2 separate regions of the Homo sapiens genome follow, and region 1 is linked to region 2. Evidence: fine-mapped expression QTL. Tissue or cell type: pancreas. Region 2 holds a variant in brackets; the other region holds the start of a gene. All regions are shown on one strand. Distances are from middle to middle.

Region 1 (2,755 bases), 84 kb after region 2:
TTTCCCTTCCCTGGACGAAGTGGGGTTTTCACCCTTGTGAGCAGAGTCTCCTTCAGGGCTCCTCCGTGAGAGAAATATGGGGCTGGACAGGGTCCCCTTCCCTCCCTCCTCACTCACCCTAAGAACCTCCAGGGACCCAGAGGCCACGCAGGCACGGAGCCAGCACCCCCGCCTCCCCCGGGGCCAGTGACCAGGCCGGGAGGTGAAGCAGTCCTCCCTCCCTCCGGCCAGCCGCCACCCCGACCTCAGCCAGCGTGCGCTCCCCGGGGACAGGAGGGAGGCTGCTTCCACCGAGGCCTCTGCTGACAGATGTCCGGGCCCCCACCTGGACCTACCCAGACCTAAGCTCCTGGGCGGGTGGTCCCGTACGCGCTGCCTTTCCCGGTGAAATACGGTTTCCACTGGGAGAGTCTGCCCCCGGCCAGCAGCCCGCGCACACTGCTCACACAGGCACACGCATGCACGCACACACTCTGCCGGGGAACATCTGTTTTGACAAACACATTATTCAAGTCAGTCCATGGGACGTGAATTGACAGATTCCTGGGCGCAGCCTGCGGGCTTTGTGCATTTGCACCTGAGCCGAGCTGGGGACTCTGATGTGTTTGTCCCACGTCCCCTTCCCCCCCTCCACCCCGCCCCCAAGAAGACAAGTCCAGGCCCTGAGCCGCTGCTGTCTGAGAAGCCTGGGGCGCACTCCCCAGGCGAGCGGGGCCGTGTCCATCGGGTGCCAAACTTTGCCTGGAGGGGCCTTTCTTAAAAGCCTGGGGTGGGGGCCATGACAGAGCCACAGCACCCCTGCAGCTGACACCCGGCACCCAGGAAGAAGCCCGTCAGCCCTTCCCTTCCGAGACGATCCTGAATTCCAAGCAGCACCGACATGCCAGCAGGGCGAGCCGCTGCTCCCCGCACCCAGCGCCCCCGGACCCCACGCTGAAGGGCATTCTCCATCCGCTGCAAGATAAACTTTGTCTGGGCAAAGAGTTTCCGGCTAACCCCCTGTGATCAACGCCGCTGCAGCTCGGGTGCAGAAAGGCGAGGGGAGACGGGAAGCTATTTTTAGGAGAAAAAAATAAATCTCAGCCTACCTTTAGAAGCGAGCTGTGCCAAGGCTCCGGAGGTTCACCTCGGAGACAACTGCAGTGTACTGTGTCAGATTACAAACTGGGGGCGAGACGGAGGGAGGGAGGAGGGGGAGAGGGAGAGAAGGAGGGAGGGAGGAGGGGGAGAGGGAGAGAGGGAGGGAGGGAGCAGCAGAGGGAGAGACAGGGAGCGAGAGGCAGGCAGAGGCGGCGCCCAGTCAACATTGCAGGGCATTGGTGTGTCTGCACTGCTTGCATTCAGCTAGACATGATTCATTAGTTTTCTGCAGGCAGGCAAGCAGGTCGAGAGGGAGAGAGGGAGGGAGAGAGAGGGAGAGAGAGAGGATCATCCGCCATGCAGCAGTAACCAGAGCCTCTGAAACGTCAGTGTTTGAACGCACACACACACACACACAAATACACATGCACACACACGTGCGCATACACACACCAAGATGGCTATACCCCTCACTGCCAGTTTCTTTCACAGAGCTGTGGTGAAAAGCTCGGACAGAGATGGAGGCAAACAGCTCTCAGCCATGCGGGGCTTGGGGTTGGTGCTTTTCTCTCCATCCCTGGGAAAACAGCACAGGATCTTCCCTGCAGGAGGCCGGGGGTCTCCTGCAACCGACAGGCAACCGATCAGCACATCAAAGTAAAAGCTGCCCTGGGCTCTACTCCAGGAAGCTCAGAAACTCAAGCGCCCTCAGAATTAAGTGATGAAGAGGAGCGACCCAAGCTGCCTGGGTCTTTGCTCTCCTGTCCGGCTCCCCTCCCCACCCCAAGCCTCCAGTGGCCCCGCAGATTCCCCCTTCCCACAGAACTTCAGGTGGTGGCACAGATATACCCGCTACCTAGCAACCGGGTGGTGCAGGAGGGAAAAAACCCTGGGAAACACGCACGGACTTCACACACTTGCTTCCTTCCCTGGGGTAAAAATCCCATGGCTTGTTACTGAAAGGTGCTGAATAAGATAGCTCATGCGGAGGAAAGCCCCTTTGGTATTTTGGGCTCCACATACCCTAATTGAGGCTCTGAGGGCTCCTACTAATGATGGCCCTGTGCAGGGACAAGACTCGAGTGTAGGACACGAGAATTCCAAGGAAGGGCTCACCACGGGTCCTTTGTACAAAAAGGAAGGACTTGTCCCGAGGTGCTTTCTGTTGCTTCTCCAATTAAGGCTCACTTTACAAGTTTTTTAAAAAATGGGCTCCTTAGTAAAACCAACACATCCTACCATCACCGTGGTTTTGCTTGTGATCTTAAAGGAATCGCAAAGGTCTCAAACCTAGACAGCCAGAGGAAACCTCTTCCCAAGACAACTTTTTCAACACTGTGGCAGACGGGTCCAGCGAGTTTTCCCAGTCAGGACTCATTTTGGCCTCCCGGATAGGCTTCTGAATTATATGCCTCTGAATTTGGCTGCAAGACTGGAGGCTTCTTTCAAGCCCCGTGTAGAGTGGCCCCAGCCTCTGTGCATGGAACAAAGAGATACGTGCTGTATCCAGGAGTAGGTGGCAAACCACAGATGATTCCTTTTCACCCTGCAGCAGAGTTATCAGGTCACAGAAACTACAAGACTGCAGAAAATCGTGGAAGGGACTGGTTACCAGATACTCGTACACACATGTTCACAGCTGCGCTGCTCTCAACAGCCAAAGGGTAGAAATGAC
Region 2 (2,755 bases):
GTAACCACAGTCACTAATTGGTGCTACCATTAGCAATATACACACAATAACAACGTAACAACTAAGTATTCACTTAAATAAAGTAGCAATTTAACTATGTGTATAGACTGGGGGAGGGAAACTAAGATAACTAAATCTTCATTTACCACAGAGCTTCTTAAACTCAGCAGTGTGACATTTGGGGCCAGGTAATTCTTCCTTGTGCAGGCTGTCCTGTGCACTATGGGGTGTTTAGCAGTATCCCTGCCAGTAGCAACCAGAGGCCAGTAGCACACACGTTTCCCTGAATCATGACAAACAGAAGTGTCTCCCAACGCCAACCCTGAAAGGCAAAACTGCCCGCTCAAAGCCCTTTGAGAACCACTTATCTACCACCCCAGAAAGTGCTGCTAATATTTTTTTACTTTGGAAAACTGGTAAGTCAAAAAAAAAAAAAGTTACAATATTGGCAATTTTTACTATTATTTAAGAGCTTCAAGAAGAAACCACTAAAAGTATTGAAAGTGGGCTCAAGGGACTGGGTATGGAAAGAAGAGACAGCACGAGATTGTTTCCATATACCTTTATACACTTAATTTTTCAAATTACATGCATGCACTTTCAAGTTATAAACTACTGTTGCAGCACAAAAGAAAGCATGCTTGTGTCTGGCTTGGGAACTCACTGAAGTCTTCCTCCACAAATCTTTCTCAAAGGAAACCTTATACTATCACATTAACTTACTTGATATGCCCATGTCTTTTCTTTAAACTACATGAAACAAATAGTTATCACATAAAAACATTTTTAAAAATCTATACATCTCCTAAAATCAACTGATGTAACACCACTGGTCCACCTACTTCATCGTGGGACGATTTCAGCAAAAAATAAAAGAGACGTTTCTAACCAGATCAGATGGGCTGGATGCAAACAAATCAAGGCAGACACCTCCAGTGAGATCCCTGCAGGCAGAGGCACATCGTCGTCATTGCTGACTACCTCCTTTTAGTGCAAACCCCCAAATCCTTACCTCCACCAACACACATCCTATTCTGCTCCTCTAAGGAATCATGTTCTCTCAGAGAAATCATTAAGAATAACATGAAAAAACGAGATTACAGGAAGTCACGATAATCTGCAAGTGATGTACATTTTTTTTTTCTAGTTCTATTACAGAAGAAAAAATTGGGGGGTGGGGCAATGATTCCTGGCTTCTCAATGCATTTAGTGCAGGTCGGTGCCCTCCGTACAGAACAAGTAAACCTACCGCTTTCTCCCCTCATCTTCCTGGGCTGCCGGGATGTGCTTTTTCAACCACCCTGTTCTCTTTGCTCTGGGGCCCCTCCTGTCCTCGGCTCGGCCTACTCCATCGTTAAAGAGGCTAAGGGGCTTTAATATCTCACCAGGCTGACTGGAGAGCTTGCTAATGAT[G/T]ATAGGGCATAAAAAACTACTCTGTATGGTTACATGTGAAGTATGTTAATTATTAATTCAAAAGTGGTCCAGCAAGTTAAAGGATTTGTGGGGCTGTGCATAACCAACCCTAATGAGCCCATGTAAAATTGAGTACAGAGCTTGAAGACCACTTTACACAAAGTTTTAATTAACAGAGCCATTTAGGCAGAGAGGAAAACAAAAACAATGATTCATTGATGTACGTTTTACTGCTGCCGTGGAACACCAGGACACATAAAACACCGGCCACCTGCTCTGCCCCATAAACATCTTCCTCACGGAGCACAGGATCATGCCTTCTGCCAGGAGGGAGGAGCCAGTTCTTGCTATTTAATGTTAGGCATAGACGCAGTTCATTTCATCTGTTTACTACAAGGTCCTCGCTACATAGAATAAAAAAAGAACCCCCCAGGTCTTAAGCCAGAGTCAGCACCCTCACGTTTTGCTGTATATTTCAACTAACAGCGGACCTACATGAAATTAAAATGCTACAATTATATCTATTGTCTGAGTATATTCATTATCTAAAGGGTGTTCAACTTTGTCTCATCATTTGAGCTCAAAGAATTGAAAATGTTGCACAAAAATTGAATACAGAGTAGGAATTTCCACTTGAGATTTCACAACTTTGAATGGATGCTGTTTCTAATGCCAGTTCTGTGATGCTTAAACTAGCAAAACCAAACTGTTCCCACCAGAACGGTGAATTCCTGAGGGAGGAAAGTTGGAGGGACAAATAACCGGACACCCAGCCCTTGCCTTTCCTCCTGAACCACATCCTATCCCGAGTGTCCCGCCCACAGCCCACCGAAACTGATCCTCGAGACCAAGGGTCTTTTCTAGCCTGATACAAGGCCTGAGGACAGATTTGGAACAGCATACCCACAGGGTAGTAACAGTGATTTGAGCCACAATTAAGACCCAAAGGTTTAGAAACCAGGGGTTATCACAACCCCTTGAGGCTGGAAATGCCTCTTCCCACCTCTCAGCCCAGAAAACAACCCTTGCTCTACAGCCCACAGCCTAGAAAGAGATTGATTTCCCGTCTGTGTCTAAGCTGTATCTCATTAACCCACGGGGCTCTTTCCCCAGCCCCAGAAGCAGGTACTTACAAGGCACCGGAGATTAGTGGTCTAGTGGACCAGACAGACTGGTCCAGGCCTCCCCGCCGGCCCCCCTTCCGGTCCCCGTGGACGCCAGCCTCTCTGAGCCTCGGATGTTTGTGCTCGGCACCAGGCTGGAAGGCTATTTACTTATTCATGGGCTGCCCAAGCCGGCCAGGAACTGCTTTGTGTCAGCTGAATAGGATGGTAATTCAATC

Evidence for each region. PIP is the estimated chance that this variant, and not a neighbour inherited with it, causes the effect.
Region 1: it holds the start of RIMBP2, and the variant in region 2 is fine-mapped to the expression of RIMBP2 in pancreas (GTEx, PIP above 0.99). The same link has a PIP of 0.9 or more in lung.

Annotation. Positions count from the first base shown.
Region 1 is chr12:130,715,134-130,717,888 of GRCh38, forward strand. RIMBP2 (RIMS binding protein 2) reads right to left here and starts at 1,166. Exons shown (of 23, transcript NM_001393629.1): 1 at 1,089-1,166.
Region 2 is chr12:130,631,259-130,634,013 of GRCh38, forward strand. All of the region lies in intron 1 of RIMBP2 (RIMS binding protein 2), which reads right to left. Among named protein-coding and RNA genes, the nearest start is that of RIMBP2, 84 kb to the right of the region's middle. RefSeq lists an enhancer at 2,647-2,755. The variant G/T (reference allele first, on the strand shown) is at 1,414.